Linked DNA regions of Homo sapiens. The protein of the gene in region 4 purifies or fractionates together with the protein of the main gene of each other region. This does not show direct contact. Each region holds a gene or a part of one and is shown on either strand. Other genes may lie near its edges.

Evidence for each region.
Region 1: the proteins of UBR7 (region 4) and ZSCAN10 purify together in Homo sapiens (affinity purification with mass spectrometry, with the first as the bait; one large-scale study listed by BioGRID). This does not show direct contact.
Region 2: the proteins of UBR7 (region 4) and COLGALT1 fractionate together in Homo sapiens (co-fractionation; one large-scale study listed by BioGRID). This does not show direct contact.
Region 3: the proteins of UBR7 (region 4) and VPS33A fractionate together in Homo sapiens (co-fractionation; one large-scale study listed by BioGRID). This does not show direct contact.
Region 5: the proteins of UBR7 (region 4) and FKBP9 fractionate together in Homo sapiens (co-fractionation; one large-scale study listed by BioGRID). This does not show direct contact.
Region 6: the proteins of UBR7 (region 4) and PYGB fractionate together in Homo sapiens (co-fractionation; one large-scale study listed by BioGRID). This does not show direct contact.
Region 7: the proteins of UBR7 (region 4) and NASP purify together in Homo sapiens (affinity purification with western blotting; one study listed by BioGRID). This does not show direct contact.

What each region holds. Positions count from the first base shown.
Region 1 is NC_000016.10:3,089,295-3,092,794, forward strand, and holds part of ZSCAN10 (zinc finger and SCAN domain-containing protein 10), read right to left. Parts: coding exon 3,248-3,500; intron 3,023-3,247; coding exon 2,755-3,022; intron 2,535-2,754; coding exon 2,470-2,534; intron 2,304-2,469; coding exon 2,246-2,303; intron 1,353-2,245; coding exon 1-1,352. UniProt on the Homo sapiens protein: Embryonic stem (ES) cell-specific transcription factor required to maintain ES cell pluripotency. Can both activate and /or repress expression of target genes, depending on the context. Specifically binds the 5'-[GA]CGCNNGCG[CT]-3' DNA consensus sequence.
Region 2 is NC_000019.10:17,565,649-17,569,148, reverse strand, and holds part of COLGALT1 (procollagen galactosyltransferase 1 precursor), read right to left. Parts: intron 1,744-3,500; coding exon 1,609-1,743; intron 641-1,608; coding exon 436-640; intron 1-435. UniProt on the Homo sapiens protein: Beta-galactosyltransferase that transfers beta-galactose to hydroxylysine residues of type I collagen. By acting on collagen glycosylation, facilitates the formation of collagen triple helix. Also involved in the biosynthesis of collagen type IV.
Region 3 is NC_000012.12:122,249,495-122,252,994, reverse strand, and holds part of VPS33A (vacuolar protein sorting-associated protein 33A), read left to right. Parts: exon of another isoform or gene 1-133; intron 134-1,895; coding exon 1,896-2,012; intron 2,013-2,949; coding exon 2,950-3,124; intron 3,125-3,500.
Region 4 is NC_000014.9:93,220,756-93,224,255, reverse strand, and holds part of UBR7 (putative E3 ubiquitin-protein ligase UBR7), read right to left. Parts: intron 1,944-3,500; coding exon 1,882-1,943; intron 708-1,881; exon of another isoform or gene 81-707; intron 1-80. UniProt on the Homo sapiens protein: E3 ubiquitin-protein ligase which is a component of the N-end rule pathway. Recognizes and binds to proteins bearing specific N-terminal residues that are destabilizing according to the N-end rule, leading to their ubiquitination and subsequent degradation.
Region 5 is NC_000007.14:32,977,940-32,981,439, reverse strand, and holds part of FKBP9 (peptidyl-prolyl cis-trans isomerase FKBP9 isoform 1 precursor), read right to left. Parts: intron 1,984-3,500; exon of another isoform or gene 1,864-1,983; coding exon of another isoform or gene 1,857-1,863; intron 1,077-1,856; coding exon 887-1,076; intron 1-886. UniProt on the Homo sapiens protein: PPIases accelerate the folding of proteins during protein synthesis.
Region 6 is NC_000020.11:25,295,799-25,298,512, reverse strand, and holds the end of PYGB (glycogen phosphorylase, brain form), read right to left. Parts: intron 2,144-2,714; coding exon 1,991-2,143; 3' UTR 501-1,990; downstream 1-500. UniProt on the Homo sapiens protein: Glycogen phosphorylase that regulates glycogen mobilization. Phosphorylase is an important allosteric enzyme in carbohydrate metabolism. Enzymes from different sources differ in their regulatory mechanisms and in their natural substrates.
Region 7 is NC_000001.11:45,617,217-45,619,393, forward strand, and holds the end of NASP (nuclear autoantigenic sperm protein), read left to right. Parts: intron 1-246; coding exon 247-375; intron 376-844; coding exon 845-925; 3' UTR 926-1,677; downstream 1,678-2,177. UniProt on the Homo sapiens protein: Component of the histone chaperone network. Binds and stabilizes histone H3-H4 not bound to chromatin to maintain a soluble reservoir and modulate degradation by chaperone-mediated autophagy.

The DNA.
Region 1 (3,500 bases), on a different chromosome or scaffold from region 4:
CGCATGGGTAGCCAGGTGCCGCCGCAGATGCGCGTTGCGCCGGAAGCTGCGACCGCACGTCTGACAGCTGTAGGGCCGCTCGCCCGTGTGGCTGCGGCGATGGCGGGCCAGGTTGGAGCTATTGCGGAAACGGTGGCCGCAGGTGTCGCAGGCGTGGGGCTTCTCCCCTGTGTGGATGCGCTGGTGGCGCGCCAGGTGGGCGCTCTGGCTGAAGCCCTCACCGCACTCGCTGCAGCGGCAGGGCTTCTCGCCCGTGTGGCTGCGCTGGTGGCGGGCCAGATCCTGGGTCTGGCCGAAACTCTTCCCGCACTGGGTGCAGTGGTGGGGCCGAGGGCCACCGTGGGTCAGCAGGTGGCGGGCAAGGCTGGCCCGGCGCACAAAGCGCTTCCCGCACTGCGGACAGGCGTAGGGCTTCTCGCCCGTGTGCACCCGTTGGTGGCTGACCAGCTGCGAGCTCTGCGTGAAGCTGCGGCCGCAAGCCTGGCAGGAGAAGGGCCGCTCGCCCGTGTGCACCCTCCGGTGGGCCACCAGGTGCTCGCTGCGCCGGAAGGCCTTGCCGCAGTCGCTGCACACGAAGGGCCTCCGGTCGGAGTCCCGGCGGCGGCTGCCGGAGCCTTCGGAGGACCGGCGGTCCTTGTCCCTGGCGTGGATCCGCAGGTGGCGCTTGAGGCTGGAGCGGCGCTGGAAGCTCTGGCCGCAGTGGGAGCACAGGACATCGGTCAGTGGCGGCGCTTCGGCCTTACTCTCAGGAGCGCAGGGCGGCTTCTGGTCCTGGGCGTGCGCCAGCAGGTGCTGCACAAGGCTGGCGCGGCGCTGGAAGCCGCGGCCGCACTCTGCGCACAGGAAGGCGGGTTCGGAGGAGTGGGTCAGCAGGTGCTTGCTCAGGTGCGAGCTCTGGCGGAAGCGGTGGCCGCACAGGTGGCAGGCGTGCGGCCGCTCGTCCGTGTGAGTGCGCATGTGCAGCTTGAGAATGGAGCTGCGGCCGAAGCTCTTCCCGCAGCAAAGGCACAGGAAGGAGCGCCCAGCCGGGTGCGAGCGCAGCTGGTGCGCCTTCAGGCGAGACAGCTGCGGGAAGCTCACCCCGCAGTCCGCGCAGATGAACTGCAACTCCGGATTGGGCTCGGGGACGCCCTCAGCCACTTTGACCTCCAAAATTTCACTGCTGCCAAGAAGGGACCCATCTTCACCAGGGCCGCTAGCCGCAGCGCCCCGTCCGAGCGACTGGGCGCAAGGCTCTCCCGGCACCCCAGGACTATCTGCCTGGGACTCTGCTAAGATGGGAGTGGGCCAGGCAGCCCCTTTGGGCTCTTCTTGTTTAAATTCCTCCTTGTCTGGGGTTCTGCTTCCGAATCCTGGGAAACAAGACAAAACAGGGACGGTCAGGCCTATTCCCAGGGCCACTATCAATCACCAGAACCTGATTGGCCTGGAAGTGGAAAGAAACCCAGGATCCTGCAAAGCTGGTAGGTAAAAGGCCGGGCACAGTGGTTCACGCCTGTAATTTCAGCACTTTGGGAGCCCGAGGCGGGCGGATCACTTGAAGTCAGGAGTGAGTTCAAGACCACCCTGGCCAACATGGTGAAGCCCCGTCTCTACAAAAAAAAAAAAAAAAAACCAAAACAAAAATTAGCTGGGTGTAGTGGCGCATGCCTGTGGTCCCAGCTACTCGGGAGGCTGAGGCAGGAGAATCGATTGAACCCGGGAGGCGGAGGTTGCAGTGAGCGGAGATGGTTCCACTGCACTCCAGCCTAGGCAACACAGTGAGACTCTGTCTGAAAACAAACAAACAAACAAAAAAACCTGGTAGGTTGGTAGAGAGGGTGGAGGTCAAACAAGGGTGCCCTTTTATTTGACCTCTCTACAAAAAGTTAGCTGGGCGTGGTGGCACACACCTATAGTCCCAGCTACTCGGGAGGCTGAGGTGGGAGGATTACCTGAGCCCAGGAGGTCCCGGCTGCAGTGAGCCATGATTGTGCCACAGTCTGGGCGAGTAACATCCTGTTTCAAAAAACAAAAAGGCCAAAAAGTCAGGTAGGGTCTGGAGCTTCAGGCAAAGAAAGAGGTGTTGGCCGGTCACGGTGGCTCATGCCTGTAATCCTAGTACTTTGGGAGGCTGAGGTGGGAGGATCACTTGAGCCCAGGAGTGGAGACTAGCCTGGGCAACATAGCGAGATTCCATCTCTTTAAAAAAGACAAGAAAAGAAAGAGGCATCAGTGGTCACTTCTCCAGGGAAGGGTTGCTTACCCAGGGGGTGTGCAGGCCACGCCTTATTCTCTGGCACATCCTCAAAGGTCAGGCACTCCTGTATCAAGAGCAGAAACCCTTGGTGAGTGAGGAACATGCCTCAGGAACCTGTGGGGACTGAAATGCTTCCTAGGACTGAATCAGGGAAGGTATGGATTTGCTAAAACTACAGGGTAGAGAAGTTCCTGGGGCTTGAGGACACCCTGGGGTGCGGCCCAGCTCACCAGCACAGCCGCCAGCTCCTGATCTCGGGAACTCTCCTCTGGCCATGGTGAGGGGCCCTGGGGACCTGACGGCATTGGGGAAGAGGGGAGGAAGTGCTGTTAGAAGGCAGCCCTGCCTGCCATATGGCTGCAAGGACACACACCGCATCATCCGGGCCCTGTGAAGACACCTTGGCGCTCTCCTGTCCTGGTCACCTGGGGAGGCCCCACTTCTCACCCCACCCCAGACATCCAGGCCCCTCCGCGACACCCAGTCCTTGGCCTCCTAGGGCACAAGCTCCTCACTGCTTTCTTGCAGGGCCTGGAATGTCTTCTGGGGCCCCGGGCTCAGCGGCTGCTTTGAACTTGGGGGAAGCCTCCACTGTCCCGGCTCAGCAGGCTGGGCAGCCCTTGGCTGGGGTCGGGGAGGCTCATCCGATGGGCCCAGCACTGAAGGCTCTTCCGCAGGCAATTCCTTCTTGGGGCTGTGGCTGGGGACCTGGGAAGCACACCCCTTTTCCTCCAAGGTGACGTCTGCACGGGGACAACTCTTGCCAGCATTACAACTAAAATCCTGTTCAAAACACATTCAAGTTAAGTGACTCCCGGGGTGGCAACCTGTGTCCTGACTCCGAGGGGACATGGGACAGAAACGAGGTTAGAGTCAGCCAGGGGAGGAGTTAGGAGGTGAAGAAGGAATGGTCAGGTGGGGGAAAGTGAAGTTTCCAGAGATTCCTCACTGGGGGGATCAAGTCCCCATCATCCGCATGCTGCTCAGCCCGCTGCCCCACCCTCTCACCAGCGGCCCCGCGTGGCTGGGCTCCCGGTGGATGCCCTCGAGCAGCAGCACCACCTCCTCCCCATCCCTGAGCGGCTGCCCCTGCAGGCGGCCCAGGAGGTGCGGAGGCAGCACACTCAGGAACTGCTCCAGCACCAGCAGCTCCAGGATCTGTTTCTTGGTGTGCAGAGCCGGCCGCAGCCAGTGGCCGCAGAGCTCCCGGAGCCGGCTCAGGGACGCCCGTGGCCCCATGTCCTCCTGATACTGGAAGCAT
Region 2 (3,500 bases), on a different chromosome or scaffold from region 4:
CTTCCGCCTCCCATATTCAAGTGATCCTCCCGCCTCAGCCTCCCCAGTAGCACCACCACGTCCGGCTAATTTTTGTATTTTTAGTAGAGATGGGGTTTCACCATGTTGGCCAGGCTGGTCTCAAACTCCTGACCTCAAATGATCCACCCGCCTTAGCCTGCCAAATTGTTGGGATTACAGGCATAAGCCACTCTGCCTGACCAACCAATAGATCTTAAAGAGCTAGGGAATGAAGCTAACCAGCAAAGCCAGGGCTGGAGAGAAACGGGGTCCTGGAGACATTATCTGAACACCTAGATACAGCTGCACCTGAAGTCAGCCCTGCGCTGCATTGTTTGGGTTCTGTGAATCTTCAGTGTGTTCTGAACTGGCTTAGTGCAAAACCCAAAGAACCAGGCAGATGCCCCTGCGATGGCAGACCCCTCATGTACGTACCTGCCTGCTTGCAGGAGAAGGCAAAGACGATGATGTCGTCAAAGGACCAGGTGTAGTCAGGGTGAGGTGGGTAGAAGGCCAGGTTCCTGGACGCCGCCTTCCGCAGGTCGATCAGGAAGGTCGAGTGCACCATGGGAACTGCAAAGCAGCCCCGGCGGTCTCGCTTGCGGATAGGGATGTAGGCAGGTGTGCGCTTGTAGTAGCCCTGTGGGGAGAGAGCGAGAGTTCCGCGTAGGGGTCTTGAAAGGTGAGGATGGAGACCCGTGATAGTGGGCGGCATGAAACAGGACCAGACAGACAGCCAGGCACAGCAGTGTGCGCCTGTGGTCCCAGGACCCCAGACTCAAGCCCAGTGTGGGACCTGTGGCCAGGCATGGCCAATAAGAAAGAGCCTTGTATTTTCCCAGCTTCAGTAATGAGTTCAGAGGTAGTGTGGAGAGGAGACTAGCAATGGCCCAATCAGAATGGATGATGGCTAGACGCTGCTGGGATCACTCTCAAGCTGTCTGAGAATGAACCCACCCAAAGGATGGAGAAAGACAGTTATCCAAACACCTGGATCAAGCCATGCCTGAAGTCCCATCCTGACACCACCACTTGCTAGCTGTGTGACTTTAGGCAAGTCACTTCCTCTCTGTGTTTCTGTTTCCACCTCTGGAATAGCATGGTGGGGGACAATCAAGGACCCTCTATTCTTCCCTCCTGTCTGGCCTCAGAGGGCTGTTTAAAGATTACCATAATGAGTTTTTGTTTTGTTTTGTTTTTGAGACCAAGTCTCACTCCGTCACCCAGGCTGGAGTGCAGTGGCGTGATCTCGGCTCACTGCAACTTCCGCCTCCTGGGTTCAAGTGATTCTCATGCTTCAGCCTCCCGAGCAGCTGGGAGGACAGGCATGTGCCACCATACCCGGCTAATTTCTGTAATTTTTTTTTTTTTTAGTAGAGATGGGGTTTCACCATGTTGCCCAGGATGGTCTCAAACTCCTGAGCTCAGGCAACCCGCCTGCCGCAGTCTCCCAAAGTGCTGGGGTTACAGGTGTGAGCCACCGTGCCCAGCTTCCATGATGATTTTTGTAAAACACACACCACGAGGTTGTGTGACAGTAAGTTACACTCTAGCCACGGCACCCCCCTGCTCAGCCCAGTCCCCACAGTCCCCAGGCCCTCACTCTACCTGGGAAGTCATTCCACACCAGAAGTTGGAGTACGCAGCCCGGGAATCCAGCATGGGGGCGACCACCGTCTTGTTCTCAGCGATGAGCAGGCTCAGTGTGTCAGGGTTGAGGATCAGGTTGTCCGCATCTACAAACTGCAGAACACCCCACAAAGCATCAGCATGGGCTGCCAGGTCAGGCTACCATTCAGAACAGCTGGGGCAAAGGCCAGTGCCCTGGGGGTCTGGCAAAGACCTCTGGAAGCACCCCCTACACCGGATGAAATGAAGCAGGGACCCCGTTTTGGGGGCCTGCAGGATCCCCTGGATCATGGAAATAAAGCAAAGGTCTTCAGTTCCTTCAAAGAAAATTCTAGGCACTGAGATAGCCCTGAGAAATAAATGAACAACCAATGAGCAAGAAGGTAGCAAAACCTTTTTTTTTTTGAGACGGAGTCTCGCTCTGTCACCCAGGCTGGAGTGCAGTGGTATGGTCTCAGCTCGCTGCAACCTCCGCCTCCTGGGTTCAAGCGATTCTCCTGTCTCAGCCTCCCGAGTAGCTGCGACTACAGCCGTGCACCATCACACCCGGGTAACTTTTTGTATTTTTAATAGAGACAGGGTACCATCATGTTGGCCAGGCTGGTTTTAAACTCCTGACCTCATGTGATTCGTCCACCTCGGCCTCTCAAAGTGCTGGGATTACAGGCATGAGCCACCATGCCTGGCCTACTATTTTACTTTTTCTTCATTTTTTATTTTTTAAAGGGATAGCATCTTGCTGTGTCACTCAGGCTGAAGTGCAATGGTGTAATCGTAGCCCACTGCAGCCTGGAGTTTCTGGGCTCAAGTGATCCTCTCATCTCAGCCTCTCAAGTAGCTGAGCGTACAGGCACACGTCACCATGCCTAGATAATGTTTTCATTTTTATTTTTATGTTTGTAGAGATAGGATCCCTCTACATTGCCTAGGGTGGTTTTGAACTCCTGGGCTCAAAGCGATCCTCCCCATGGCCTACAATAGTTCTGAGATTACAGGTCTGAGCCACTGCACCTAGACTAAAATTAAATATATATATATAAAATCACACATAGAAAATGATTAGGTCCGGACGTTCCCCCTCTACCAGGATGTAAAGACACAGAAGTCATGATATATCACAGAACTACCAGAAGGTTTTTTGTTTTTGTTTTTGTTTTTTTGAGATGGCGTCTCCTGTTGCATAGGCTGGAGTGCAGCGGCGTGATCTCGGCTCACTGCAACCTCCACCTCCCATGTTCAAGCAATTCTCCCTGAGTCTCCCAAGTAGCTGGGATTACAGACACATGCCACCACGTCAGGCTAATTTTTGTATTTTTTGGTAGAGATGGGGTTTCACCAGGTTGGCCAGGCTGGTCTCGAACTCTTGATTTCAAGTGATACGCCTGCCTCGGCCTCCCAAAGTGCTGGGATTACAGGTGTGAGCCATTGTGCCCGGTCTGGATTTTTTTTCTTTTACTGCTGGTCCACAGAGATGCTTTCTGTTACCCAGGCAGTATCGTTTAGAATATTTGGATTAACTGCCATGAACAACAACAAAAACTAGAATTCCAGTATCCCCTGGCAACGTGAGAATACCATTTCCACATGGCAACCTTCAGTTGCAGAGGGGAGGTGGCTGGGTCTTAGGACAAGCCCTGTGGTCATGTTACACACCCCATCCGGTCCCTCTGGATGTTTGAATCTGTGACCTTTGAATATTAATGCAGAACAAACAGCCAGATCACTGTGGCAGTTCCTCAAAAAGCTAAACATAGAATTACTACATGATCCAGGAATTCCATTCCTAGGTATGAACCAAGAGAATTGAAAGAAAGGACTCAAACAGCTTCTTTGTTTGTTTGTTTGTTTTTGAGACAGAGTCTTGCTCAGTC
Region 3 (3,500 bases), on a different chromosome or scaffold from region 4:
TGTGGACAGCAGGGACATGTTGGGTTGGTAGGGGTGGAGGGAATTGATAAAATGTACCATATTGACTTATGAGTGGATAATGGTTGTAAAAAAACCTAAATAATTCCAAATAAAAGCTAACTGTTACTGAGCATTTGCTGTATGTTTCAGGTACTGGGATTAAATGCTTTACATGTATTTTTCTCATTTAATACTTGCCCTATGTGGACTATACTCCCTTCTACATATGAATAAATTGAGGCACAAAGAGATTCTCTAACTGGCCCAGGGCACAGCTAGTAAGTGACACAGTTGGATTCAGAACAAGGCAATCTGAGTCTAGAACCTGTGTTTTGATCCACCTGTATCAAAAGTGACTGCTTCCCTCCTCTCACCTCACAGGTGGTTTTTTTCTCTCTCTCTTTTTTTTTTAAAGAGATGGGGTCGGCTGGGCGCGGTGGCTCACGCCTGTAATCCCAGCACTTTGGGAGGCCGAGGTGGGCGGATCACGAGGTCAGGAGATCGAGACCATCAGGGCTAACATGGTGAAACCCCGTCTCTACTAAGAAATACAAAAAAATTAGCCAGGCGTGGTGGCGGGCGCCTGTAGTCCCAGCTACTTGGGAGGCTGAGGCAGGAGAATGGTGTGAACCCAGTAGGTGGAGCTTGCAGTGAGCCGAGATCGCGCCACTGCACTCCAGCCAGGGCGACAGAGCGAGACTCCATCTCAAAAAAAAAATAAAAATAAAAATAAAAAAAGAGATGGGGTCTTGCTCTGTTGCCCAGAGGGGAGTGTGGCGGTGCGAACATAGCTCATTGCAGCCTCAAATCCCTGGGCTCCGGTGATCCTCCTGCCTTACCCTCCTGAGTAGCTCAGATACAGATGCATGCTACTATCCCTGGCTAATTATTTAATTTTTTATAGATACAGGGTCTCACTATGTTGCCCAGTCTGGTCTCAAACTCAAGAGCTCAAGCAATCCTCCTATCTCAGCCTCCCAAAGTGCTGTGATTACAGCCATGAGCCACTGCACCTAGCCTTCCCAGGTGGTTTTGTGTGTATTTTGGAGATTCTTTTTTCTTTTTTTTTTTTTTATACTTTAAGTTCTAGGGTACATGTGCACAACATGCAGGTTTGTTACATATGTATACATGTGCCATGTTGGTGTGCTGCACCCATTAACTCATCATTTACATTAGGTATATCTCCTAATGCTATCCCTCCCCCCTTCCCCCACCCCACGACAGGCCCTGGTGTGTGATGTTCCCCTTCCTGTGTCCAAGTGTTCTCATTGTTCAATTCCCACCTATGAGTGAGAACATGCGGTGTTTGTTTTTTTGTCCTTGTGATAGTTTGCTGAGTTGGAGGTCCTTTTTTCAATGCAAAAATATATATTTTTTATAAAATGAGATCATACTCAACAGATTGTGGCCTTCAGTTGTCAGTTGTCATGAAAATCTGCCTCATCCTTTTTGAAAACAATAAAGTATTCGTCCTGTGGTCTTTTGCATTTCTGGGTATTAGCATGTCGCTCTCCCAGCATGTCCTACCAGAGTTTACTCTCACCAGTGAATGGGAACCCATCGTTCAGTGTAAGTCTGTATTCTTCCGTCTTTTATTTAAGAGCTGATTCAGAAGAGCTGGCATGCTGGGTGAACAGTTTTCTCCCAGAAGCCCCGGCTCTGCCCAGGAGAGGTGCTTCCACGGCTGCACCCACCCTGGGGCTGCCAGCCTCAGCGCCTGGTCTGACAGGCAGCAGTTTTGGAAAATGAACTTGAGTCCCCAATTTTCCTGGCACAGTGTGAAATAACTGGAAATGATTTTATTGTCTGTCGCTGCACCCCAGCCCCAGGAACAGAGATGGGCCCCTGGGAGGCCCCCATGGCCTGGCAATAATTGGCCTTTTCCCTCACAGGAGTGCTACCTGGAGGGTGACCAGACGAGCCTGTACCACGCAGCCAAGGGGCTGATGACCCTGCAAGCTCTGTATGGAACGATCCCCCAGATCTTTGGGAAAGGAGAATGCGCTCGGGTGAGAACCGGCTGCTTTGTGGTGGTAAAGGAGGGCCCTTCACACCCCAAAAGGGAGGAGGAACGGGAAGCTCCTTACAAACAAATTCAGTTGATCTTAATTATTTATGAATACTGTACTCATGAATTTGCCTACTGATTAAAATGCACTTATAACCCTCCAAGTCAGTACTCATGGTGCTTTTGTCGGCGTGCACAGTGGTGACAGTTTGAGTAACCACTGCGCATGTTCCCAACTGAGGCAGCTGACACTCCACCTTCCCATTTCAGCTCTCAGACTGCAAACAAGTGTACTTTTCACAGTCTCACTGTCATATTTTCCACACGTGTGTACTTTTTTTGGTGATTTCACTGTTTAAAATGGCCTGCAAATGTAGGACTGAGGTGCAGTCGGGTGTCTTGTGCACAAGAAGGCTGTGGTGTGCCTGGCGGAGACATTACGTGTGTCAGAGACGCTTCGTTCAGGCACGAGTCACAGAGCTGCTGGCTGTCAGTTCAGTGTGAGTGATCAACAATTATGTTAAGTCAGGCATCTTTAAGCAGAAACACATATAAAACTGGGTTACGTATTGATCAATTGACAGAAACGTTGAGACCAGAGGCTCCCAGGAACCTAAGTCTGCGTTTCTCCTAGGAACAGTGGTTCCATCTTCGCTAATTTAGTGTTTGCAGTGACTTCATAGAACATAACTACTGCGAATCACAAGAATAGACTGACCTGATTTTATGCCTCATTGGCAAATGGCAGCTGCCTTGGTGCAAGTGTCGGGATGGGTGCCAACAGCAAGGTGCTTTTCTAGAGCTGCTTATTTCTAAGCAATGCACTCTTCCAGTTTTTCTCCTTTTTTACTTTTTTGATTGTCTTTCTGGTTTTAGACAAATTTTAAAATCTGCTTGTTCCCAGGGGGGCCCCACCTCATCCAATGTTTTGTTTCCAGCAAGTGGCCAATATGATGATCAGGATGAAGAGAGAGTTTACAGGAAGCCAGAATTCAATATTTCCTGTTTTTGATAATCTCTTGTTGCTTGATCGGAATGTGGATTTATTAACACCTCTTGCCACTCAGCTGACATATGAAGGACTCATTGATGAAATTTATGGCATTCAGAACAGTAAGTACATGACATCTGTTTTCACTAATAGGTAATATGAGAAGAATATCCTTTGTGGAGGCTACTGTTTGTATATTGCACACTTAAGCATAATTTAAAGTCAGAGATCCGATTTTAATGATTCAGAGTGTAGATTAATACAGACCTTTTTGTAAGCAATTTAGCAACACATAAAACTTTTCTAACCCTTGGCCAAAGAAAACCCAAAGCCTAAGAATGTGCCTTGAGGAATCATTCCAAAAAAGAGGATCAGTGAGGTTTGCATAAGAATTTCGATTTCCATTTTCTTACCAGAATTTTCCAAACAATCTCAGTGGTTGAGTACATTATGAAATATTATGGAACCACCTGGGTGTGGTGGCTCACACTTGTAATT
Region 4 (3,500 bases):
GGCAGCACTGTGACCCTGTCCAGAAATTCAGGCAGTTAAATGTTCTTCCCACATCTATGACAAAGAAAAAAACGACCTAACCTTTTGCGGGTGGTGGCGAGCGCGGAGAGGACGCCATGAAGGCCTCGGGCACACTATGAGAGTACAAGGTGGTGGGTCACTGCCTGCCCACCCCCAAATGCCACACACCGCCCCTCTACCACATGCGAATCTTTGCGCCTAATCACGTTGTCGCCAAGTCCCGGGACTTCTGGTACTTCGTATCTCAGTTAAAAAAGATGAAGAAGTCTTCAGGGGAGATTGTCTACTGTGGGCAGGTGTTTGAGAAGTCCCCACCGCGGGTCAAGAACTTCGGCATCTGGCTGAGCTATGACTCCCGGAGCGGCGCCCCCAACATGTACCGGGAATACCGGGACCTGACCACCGCGGGCGCTGTTACCCAGTGCTACCGAGAGGTCTATGGGCGCCTGGCACCGCACCTGGGCCCATTCCATCGAGATCCTGAAGGTGAAGGAGATCGCAGCCAGCAAGTGCCGCCAGCCGGCCGGCCATCAAGCAGTTCCACGACTCCAAGATCAAGTTTCCCGCTGCCCCACCGGGTCCTGCCCGTCAGCCCAAGCCACGCTTCACCACCAAGAGGCCCAACACGTTCTTCTAGGGGCAGGGCCCTCGCCCGGGTGTGCCCCAAATAAACTCAGGAACGCCCCCCACCCCAAAAAAGAAAAAAAAGGAAAAAATGACCTAAAGTAGGTAGACAGAGATGACATCTTCTAAGAAAGCAGGGCTCAAGCCAGCCTCCCAAGTAGCTGAAACTACAGGTACAAGCCGCCATGCCCAGTTCTTTTTTTTTTTTTTTTTTTTGAGATGGAGTCTTGCTCTGTCACCCAGGCTGGAGTGCAATAGCACAATCTTGGCTCACTGCAACCTCCACCTGTGGGGTTCAAGCGTTTCTCCTGCCTCAGCCTCGGAGTAGCTGGGATTACAGGCACCCGCCCTCATACCCAGCTAATTTGTGTATTTTTGTAGAGACAAGGTTTCACCATGTTGGCCAGGCTGGTCTTGAACTCCTGACCTCAGGTGATCCACCCACCTCAGCCTCCTAAAGTGCTGGGATTAAGGCGTGAGCCACTGCACCCGGCCACCATGCCCAGTTTCTATTCTAAACCATGGAACTTAGAATTCCAGAAACTGGGTCTGGTGTTAATTTTTCCTGTCCAGTCATTTTCCCCTCCCCGTCCCAAAGATCCATGCTTCAAGGTCAGGACCAGCAGAATCAGTACTGCGGATTCCTTCCAATGACCTTCTGCTAAGCTACAAGTACTCTCTCAGAGGCTGTGGGACTGCGCCCTCCCATCATTCTTCCCGGCTTAGCTGGGGTTGGTAAGGACTGCCAATGTAACTCTGATGTTTCACTACCTCTTATTCATTCCCCTTAGCCTGCCAATTTGCTCAAAACAGTCCCTGAATTCAACTCTCAAGTACCCACTTAAGTCGCAGTCATTTTTTTTTTTTTGAAATAGGGTCTTGCTCTGTCGCCCAGGCTGGGGTGCAGTGGCGTGTTCTCGGCTCACTACAACCTCCGCCTCCTGGGTTCAAGTGAGTCTCCTGCCTCAGCCTCCCTAGTAGCTGGGACTACAGGCGCCCATCACCACGCCTGGCTAATTTTCGTATTTTTAGTAGAGATGGGGTTTCACCATATTGGCTAGGCTGGTCTTGAACTCCTGACCTTGTGATCCACCCACATTGGCCTCCCAAAGTACTGGGATTACAGGTGTGAGCCACCGCACCCCGCCAGTCGCAGTCATTTTTAATCGTCAAAGGAAATAAACCCTTCATTCAAAACTTACAGGGCTATGATTAGAATTCTTTAACTCAACATACCGTGCCTTCATCAGCAAATCTCTTGAGATAGTCTTTAAGTTCAGTCTTCAAATCATTGTATTCTAAATCAAAACCACAAAAGTATTTAAGTTTAGATAAACCATTTGCTTTCAAAAACAAAATATTCTTTGCCATTGACACCTGAGTCTGTTAATAATGTAGTCTAAATAAAAATTTTCTTAAGTGAAAGCTGCATAGAAACTCGTTCCCAAATTATCTGTACGTCTACCATGTTGATATGAGACCCTTTTTCATTAAAAAAAAAAAAAGCAAAATTTTTTAAAAAGCATAAAAAGCAGAGATATCCTAATCCCATAAAGATTAAGAATTTTTAAAAGGGCTTCCTATTTCTCTGGAATTCTGGTAGCTGAAATAACCTTGGACTTGTTGAATATTTAATTTAATTTAATTTATTTTATTTTTTGAGATGGAGTCTCACTCTGTCACCCAGGCTGGAATGCAGTGGCACGATCTCGGCTCACTGCAACCTCCGCCTCCCGAGTAGCTGGGACTACAGGCACGCGCCACCATGCCTGGCTACTTTTTTATATTTTTAGTAGAGACAGGGTTTCACCACGTCAGCCAGGCTGGTCTTGAACTCCTGACCTCAGGTGATCCACCTGCCTTGGCCTCCCAAAGTGCTGGGATTACAGGCGTGAGCCATGGCGCCCAGCCCAAGCAAACTGACTCACTTAACAGTTTATATTATGTACAAGGTACCTTGAGGGCTACAAGTATCTTTTAGGTGCATCCTCTATCCTTGAAAAGTTTTTACTCTAATAAAGGCAAAAAGAAATTAATAATTATAAATAAAAGACACGGCCAGGTGCAGTGGCTTGCACCTGTAATCCCAGCACTTTGGGAGGCTGAGGCAGGTGGATCACCTCAGCTCGGGAGTTCGAGACCAGCCTGGGTGACATGGTGAAACCCTGACTCTACTAAAAATACAAAAATTAGTGGGGACTGGGCATGGTGGCTCATGCCTGTAATCCCAGTACTTTGGGAGGCCAAGGCAGGTAGATCACCTGAGGTCAGAAGTTCGAAACCAGCTTGGCCAACATGGTAAAACCTTGTCTCTACTAAAAATACAAAGTAAATTAGCCAAGCATGGTGGCAGGTGCCTGTAATCCCAGCTACTTGGGAGGCTGAGGCAGGAGAATCACTTGAACCTGGGAGGCAGAGGTTGCAGTGAGCCGAGATCGCGCCACTGCACTCCAGCCTGGGTGACAGAGTGAGACTCCATCTCAAAAAAAAAAAAAAAATTGGGGGGGCGCAGTGGCATGCGTCTGTGGTCACAGCTACTTGAGAGACTGAGGCAGGAGAATCACTTGAGCCTGGGCAGCAGAGGTTGCAGTGAGCTGAGAATGCACCATTGCACTCCAGCCTGGGCAACAGAGCAAGACCCTGTCTCAAAATAAATAAATAAATAATAAAAGACAGAAATGACTGATGCTATAAAAGTCACATAAAAGTGGTGGCATCCAAGTGGAAATGGCTGGGATAGAAACCACTGAAATAAGTTTGGCCTGCTGCAGCTGGGTGGTGGTGGGGGGATGTAAAAGCCTTCAATCAAGGGTTTGGGGGTATTTTCTCCTCTAGTGGTTTCCTGTGAACCACTG
Region 5 (3,500 bases), on a different chromosome or scaffold from region 4:
CTACAATTGCAGGCCATGGCTGATAAACAAAACAAAACTTTGAACAACAAAAGAGGCCAGTAATTAGCCTCTATGGCACCCAGCATCCAGAAGGGAGCTGAATGCATCCAACCAGTGCCGTCCAGCTGATCAGCCTCTGAAATTTGTAAAGCACTGTGACACATACCTTATCTCTTTAATCTAACCACCTACTTGACAAAGTTGCTGGAATAGGGAAAAATGAAGTCCAAGGCAGTCAAACACTATCCAAAGTCATACAGCTAGTGCACCACAGACAGGGGCTAGAGCCCAGCTCTCTTGGCATTAAGCCCATTCTCTGCCCACTGTACCTCCTTGACATCACTTCTGGCCACTCCTCATCTTGGGCCCCATAATGAGGTTTATAACTGGATAACTAAGCACAGTATAGGGGGATGGTGGGAGTCGAGGGTGAGTCTCTCCTGTCTTCCTGCAGAACCATCTAAAACAGCCCCCAAGAAAGAAATGGTTACAAGAGCCTATGAAGAAACTTAAGCCCATCTCTACAAAAAATAAAACATTAGCCAAGCATGGTGGCACACGCCTATCGTCCTAGCTACTAAGGAGGCTGAGATGAGAGAATTGCTTGAGCCCAGGAGTTCAAGGCTGCAGAAAGCCACGATCATGCAGCTGCACTGCACTCCACACTGGATGACAGAACGAGACCCCGTCTCAAAAAAAAAGAAAGAAAGAAAGGAAGGAAGGAAGGGAGGAAAGAACTAAGTATCAGAAAACAGAAACTTGTATTAGAGATGAAAATGCCAACTACAAATCAGCATGGACAGAGTATTTAAATCATGGTCCAGCCAATGGCAGACTTTATTTAATACAATGTTCTGGCAATTGAAGACTTTAATCATTTCCTTACCTGGAATCAAAGAGGGTGCCATCCAGAAGCGTGCCATTGTAATGATACCTGAGAAAGTCCCCACTTTGACTTATCCGCTCACAGTTTTCAGGTACTACCTTGTTCTCAATGGAAATGCTGTCCTTGGGGTTATGGAGGTCCAATAATGCAACATCAAACACCAGAGATGCCTGACCGGGAATGTCTTTCCCTAGAATGGAATGGGAGAAGATGATTAAACGGGACACAGGATTTAGGAAGTACTTTACAACTCAACAGGCTTGGGGTTGGTGTTATTCATTTCTTGAGGTTTTGAAGCCAAGGAAACAAATGTTCTTCCAGGTCTTGAATGGGCCCCCATGGTGTCCAACCATGGGCTGATGGTATAATCTAAAACCTGACTCAGCAAAAGGAGAAAATTGGTATTAATGACATAAGAGACTACCATGACCATATTTTCTGGACTCATGCTGGAAAATCAAGGCTTTATGTAGGTGGGCAGGCACCCACAGGCAAACCCAAATACATACCTCTGTGGGTTTCTGTTTGTGAATAAATGCAAACCACAGACATTTAAAGGAGAAAATTCCAAATCTCTGGTCTGGTTCTGGAGAACTGTACACAGACTTGTTCTTTGAAACGAACGGCCAATTTTTTAGAGGCAAAAAGTAAAACTCAATGCTTTAAGTATATCCAAAGCAAGATATAAATAAGATGAAAGCAGAATAACAGAGAAAAAAATGGCACCCACAATCCAAAATATAAATAAATAGTCCTCAAATCACTTCTATCTCACTTCTGGGTAGTACTGCTTCTCTTGGATGTTCCTGCCAGTGGGAATATTTTGAATATCTGCAAAATGAAATCCACATGAAGAGATTACAGGACACTAGTTCTTCCTGCAAAGATCAACATCAACCAATAAATAACTCAAAATCCAGTAATTTGGGATAGTAGAAAGTTAACCAACAAACCAATCCCTCAGTTTTACCTGCCATTTGTTATATCATGCAAAGGAGTAGGCCCAGACAAGCAAACCAGATGCCGCCAAGCCTGAGCTCCTTCCACTGGCCTTTGGCAAAGCCCACCCTGCATCTCCTTCCCATCCAAGGAATGATGAAATCTGCTGAAAGCCGGCTGCTGAGTCAGCCCCTGGAATGCAAGGTGTGGTCAATCCCTAAATCGCATGCGTGGGAGATAGAATATTAATCTTTTGTGCCTTACTGTATCTTTTCATTTAAGAGAAAAATGAAAGCCTTAAAAGTAACCATGGGGTTTAAATTTTTCTTTTCTTTTTTTTTTTCTTGAGACGGAGTCTCGCTCTGTTGCCCAGGCTGGAGTGTAATAGCTCAATCTTGGCTCACTGCAACCTTCGCCTCCTGGGTTCAAGCGATTCTCCTGCCTCAGCTTCCCGAGTAGCTGGGATTACAGGCACCTGCCACCACGCCTGGCTAAATTTTGTATTTTTAGTAGAGACGGGGTTTCCCCATGCTGGCCAGGCTGGTCTTGAACTCCCGACCTCAGGCGATCCACCCAAATCAGCCTCCCAAAGTGCTGGGATTACAGGCGGCAGCCACTGCGCCCGGCCTGGGGTTTCAATTTTTCTAGCATTAATGTGTACTAAATGAATAATGTTTTCTATAGCAACTTTGCAGAGATATAATTCACATACCATACAGTTCACCCATTTAAAGTTATACTTGGATAGCCGAGCACAGTATTCAAGTATAAAGTATTCAAAAATAACTACTCTAAATAAGCTATTATTTATTTAAAGTAAAGAAATAATATTTCTCATATTAGGCTCACATCTGGTTTTGTTATGTGGCTGATGACAAAAGGATCTGGGAGCCAACGTGAATGAACTTCTTGGGGCCAAGGACAAGACCATTTGAACATCAATAAGAAAACAGTAACTGCCAGGCACAGTGGCTCCCACCCGTAATCCCAGCGCTTTGGGAGGCTGAGGTGGGAGGATCGCTTGAGTCCAGGATTTCCAGGTAAGCCTGGGTAACGTAGCGAGACACTGTCTCTAAAAAAACTTTTTTAACTAGCCAAGCATGGTGGCACACGTCTGTACTCCTAACTATTCGGAAGGCTGAGGCAGGAGGATCACCCAGGAGTTTGAGGTTACAGTGAGCTATGATGGTGTCACTCCAGTCTGGGTGACAGAGTGAGACCCTGTCTCTAAAAATAATAATAACAGTATCTTATATCTCAGTGGGGGGGAGAATTAAGACATATTTATGGCACTGCTTTAAACTTTATTTTTCTTTTAGTAGGGAATTCCACCCCTAATGCTCTGTTTAAGAAACCATCTGCAGATCCCCAGCATGTAAAATATATAAAAGTGGGCCAGGCACAGTGGTTCACACCTGTAATCCCAGCACTTTGGGAGGCCGAGGTGGATGGATGGCTTGACCTCAGCAGTTTGAGACAAGTCTGGCCAACATGGCGAAATGCTGTCTCTACTAAAAATACAAAAATCTGCCAGGCATGGTTGCATACGCCTGTAGTCCAAGCTACCCAGGAGGCTGAGGCAGGAGAATCTCTTGAATCCAGGAGATAGAGGTTGCAGTGAGCCGAGATCGCACCACTGCACTCCAGCCTGGGCAACAGAGTGAGACTCTGTCTC
Region 6 (2,714 bases), on a different chromosome or scaffold from region 4:
GAGGCTGAGGCGGGCGGATCACCTGAGGTCAGGAGTTTGAGACCAGCCTGGCCAACATGGCAAAACTAAAAATACACAAATTAGCCGGGTGTGGTGGTGGGCGCCTGTAATGCCAGCTACTCGGGAGGCTGAGGCAGGAGAATTGCTTGAACCCAGGAGGCGGAGGTTGCAGCGAGCCAAGACCGTGCCACTGCACTCCAGCCTGGGCAACAAAAGCAAAACTCCATCTCAAAAACAAAAAAACAAAACTAGCCGTTCAGGCACACATGACCCCGGGTTCCACACCTAGTGGAGATGCAAACTTTTCTGCCCTCAATCCCAGAATGATGGGGTGTAATTCAGCCCCGGCTCTAGTTTCAGACGGGGGACCTGTGGCCCACTTGCAGGTCTCATCCCTGCACTGGCACCACCCTGGGCCTCAGGCCTGTGTTCTCTGCTTCCCACAGTCTCATACCACCACCTGCAGTTAGTTAGTTAGTTAGTGAAACACAGACCCCATGTCAGCCAACCACAGCCACAAAGGTTTAATCAGTTTTTATCTCACAAGGCAGTAACAATGAGGGGCACAGTGGTGGTCAGGGTGGTGGCCCCAGTGGCCAACTAGGGGAGTATGGCCTCCTCCACAGAGCCGCTGCCTGGGGAAGATGCTGTCAGGGCACGACCACAGCCCAGCACTTGCCCCACTCAATAAAAGGCTGTAGTGCTCTGGTGGGCTGTGCACCGTGCGCAGATCCTCCTGGTGGGCACTGGAGGCCAGGGAGAAAAAGAGCCTCCCCGCAGCCCAGATCCAGCATGCAAGGTGCTAGATTTCTCGGCAATTCCACAGGGAAGGACAGTAGCCTGTTCCCTGCCCTCTCTCTTGGGCAATGGGAGGCAGGTTGCCAGCCTTGGGGAGGGGCAAGGCTGTGAGGGGCTCACCCCCACCTCCCAGTGCCAGGCCTGCTGTCCAAGCAGAGCACAAATGGGTTCCTCCGGGACCCCTGGTCCTTTTTCCAGACGAGGCTGTGGCACTGGTGGAAAGGGAGGGAGAATGGAGCCTGGCCCTTGTGTGTACAACAGGAAATGCACCTCAGGACACAGCAGGAGTCAGCGGGAGGGCACAGACCTGCCCCCTGCCAGGCAGAAAATGGGCCTCCTCAAGCACAAAAGTGACCAAGTACAATTTTCAGTTGCTAAAACAAGAAAAGGCTTCAGCTAGTTTCATTTCCATGTGTAGTTATTTTCTCTTTTGAATAAGCAAAACCAAGCTAAGCTGTGTCAGCCAACTTCATCCTGACCAAGGCCTCTGAGACAGCAGACACAAGCACCCACTCCAGTGTCCCCCTCAGTCATCCCGGGTTCCAAGCACCCACACAATGCCCATTGGATGGCTACAAAGGGAAAGCCCCATCTGGGTCCATGACCCATATACCAGGTGCAGAGCCAGGACAGAGGGCAGGGGGCAGGGGGCTGTGAAGGCGATGCCTAGAGGATCCGACCCCTCCCGGCATGGCCAGGAGGCAGGGCTGGGCAGGATGACTGGGGCTACATGGGGCTTGGCCCTTCCCTGTGGCTGGCAGCCCAGATGCTGCAGTAACACTCATTCCCAGGCTTCACTATGGCCACTGGCCCAGACCCCAGAATCCAGAGGCTCAACACTAAAGACATCGGCTAATACATAGCAAGATGTGTGCAAAGTTCTGGGGGAGCCCAGCAGGTGGCTCCACCTGACTCCCACTCTGGGTGGGGCAGGTGCTGAAGCTGCAGGGCTGGCCACGACCCTTTGTACTGTCAACTCTGGCTTCCTTTACAAGAAACTAGGAGCACTTCTAGCACATTCCTTCCTTACCCTGCTCTCTCAAAACCACCCTGACCCCCATGGCCCCTCCTGGAAACATGGTACTCAGAAAAGCAGGGACCACCAGTGGCTGGCAAAGTGTTTGGGGAAAAAAGGAGGTGCAAAGTCAGCAAGAAAACAAATGCCCGCTGGTCCCGCCAAGGCAGGGTGTGCCTAGTCCCGGGGGATGTTGGGGGGCGGGATCTGCAGGTCGGAGGGCTCCACACCCCAGATCTCCCGTGCATACTCCGTGATGGTCCGGTCACTGGAGAACTTGCCCGAGCAGGCGATGTTCCTGATGACCTTCTTGGTCCACTCCTTGGGGTTCTGCAGGGAAGGAGATGAAATTAGTCTCTGGCGTCACAGGGCTTGGGGCTGCTAAAAACATGGGATTCCAGAACTTTAGGACTGTTTCCAAATGAGCTCCGAGCCTTGGGGCCATCCGCTGGAAGAGGAGGACATTACAATCACTTGTTCGTTGAAAAGGGGACCCCACGGACCAGGAAAGCTACCGCATTCTAGATCTAGGGAGCAAGGAGCTGGAGAGAAGGTCCCAGCCTCGAAAATTCCTGCTAGGGCATGGCCCCCAGGACGACGATAGGGATAGCACCAGGTAAGAACTGCCCAGGCAGATCCAGTGCCAGGGGACATGCCCAGGCAGTCTCCTTCCACCAGGGAGCCTCACAGCTGCCACAAGCTGCAGGTCACACCAGGCCAGCCTTTCCTCGAGGCCAGCCCTGACTGAGGGAAGAGAAGGTCCCTCCCAGGGCCCTGCCCGTCACTCAGTTTCCAGGCCGCACATTCCTTTCTTGGCCATTAGGAGCTGTTTTTTTCAACGGAGGGAGTGACATTGACAGTGACAGCTTCCCTAAAGGCAGGCACAGCCGACTGATGACAG
Region 7 (2,177 bases), on a different chromosome or scaffold from region 4:
CATCTCCTCACCCCAACCCTATCTCCCTGTGCTTCCGGTAGAGGGGCCTGAAGTGATATGGTGGGACAGATTAATACATTCTGAGAGTACAGGTTGGCATCTGCCTGTGGCTAGGGAGAGAGACCCTTAGAGCTGTGAATCCTGATGTTCAGGATCTTTGCACCACAAGGGTTAAGGAAATGTTTTGCAGTTGTCTTTTTAAAAACATTAAGCACATTTGTGAAGCCTTCACAATTATATCTTTAGAGGAAACCAGAGGAAGAGAGTCCCCGGAAAGATGATGCAAAGAAAGCCAAACAAGAGCCGGAGGTGAACGGAGGCAGTGGGGATGCTGTCCCCAGTGGAAATGAAGTTTCGGAAAACATGGAGGAGGAGGTGGGCAGTTAAGCAGGGCTTAGCCTCTTGCCTCATTCCTTGTTCTCAGGACCTGGGGAAATCAGTCCTCTCAAGTGCATGCTCCCCACCTTGAGCCTGCTAACGATTGTTGAGTGCAGTCCTCACAGAAAACGGTACTTGTGCAGGAAAACAGTTTGGTTATGGGAGTATAGGATGACTCACTGACAAATGGAACCTGTATATTATAGGTCCCTCGATGAATATATGAGAAGGCACTTGATGGGCAAAACCATTAGGTCACTTCCTTCCACGTGATGATTATTGGCTCTGTCAGCCCCATTATCACAGAGTATTCAAGAAATACTTTGTGGTCACTGCCCTCTTAATATAGGGAGCAAAGCAGAGTTTGGGTGACTTGTATATGCTTCCTATGACTGAGGCCTCAGTTATATAAGACAGAATGGCTTAAACTAGGCTCACTCATGCCCAGGTTCTGTTTGTCTTCCAGGCTGAGAATCAGGCTGAAAGCCGGGCAGCAGTGGAGGGGACAGTGGAGGCTGGAGCTACAGTTGAAAGCACTGCATGTTAAGAGGGGGCACAGCCCTCCTCCCAAGGGAAAGTGTTTTTGTATATAATGTATTTTTTCACTTTTGGAGGATTCTTTTTGTATAACTTCAATAAAGATTGTAAGCAAAGGTTGAGGCTTTGATGGTTTTTTTCTTAATTATTGGCTGAATCTGCCTTGGAGCACTGCTGGTTTTATATATTAGCCAAAGGTTTTGTTCTGGCCTTCTGTACTGATCTGTGTTCCTGATCCTAATTCCTATCTGTCTAACGTGGAGGTGATCAAGTGTGGCTGTAGGCCTTTGTTTTCCAATGGTGCTATATTCTGTTTTCAAACACTTCACTGAACCCAGCTGTCTTGCAAACTTTCAGTGGTGCTGTCCCTGGATGGGGGCTACAAAAACAAGAATTGGTGAAGATCTTGCTCTTCAGTGCTGAAAATGGATGATGGACTTTGGCTGTGAGCCAGGCCTAGGATGGTTCTTGTCCTATATCCACCTAGTCTTCACCTGGGGCTATAATTCTGTCCTGGAAAAAGAACTCTGAAAACCTGGGTCAGGGGAATGATTCCTAAGGAAAACGGTCTGCATTTGAGCTCTGGTTTGAAAGTAGCCAAGGGGACTGATGGTGGACACTCCAGATGTGGTTGGAAGCATATGTGGGGAGGCTGGCTGGTTGAGTTTTGTTATTTTCTGTATAGAAAGGTTGAGATATATCAACACTTGGAATTGTTACCCATCTGCAGAATTGACTTCTCAAATAAAGATGCTAAAAATCTCCTTGTCTGGAATTATGTTTAAAGATCTTAAGTGGGGTCTTAGGCTGCTTTTTTGAGATGGGATCTTGCTCTTGTCGCCCAGGCTGGAGTGCAGTGGCGTGATCTCGGCTCACTGCAACCTCTGTCTCCTGGGTTCAAGAGATTATCCTGCCTCAGGAGGCTCCCAAGTAGCCAGCACTACAGGCTAATTTTTGTATTTTTGGTGGAGACGAGGTTTCACCATGTTGGCCAGGCTGGTCTCGAACTCCTGACCTAAAGTGATCTGCCCACTTTGGCCTCAGGAAGTGTTAGGATTACAGGCGTGAGCCACTTCACCTGACTGCCTGGAGCATTTCTGTGTGCGATAGAGGGTTTCAAAGGCAGAAACGAGCCCACCAGTCCAAGGATGCTGGTGGTGAGGGCACTAGTATTAATGTTAGACCTGTTGTGCTCTCACTGGTGTCTAGGGGTCAGGGCTCACTTGAGACTGAACTGCCTCTGACCTGACTCTAAGTACCAG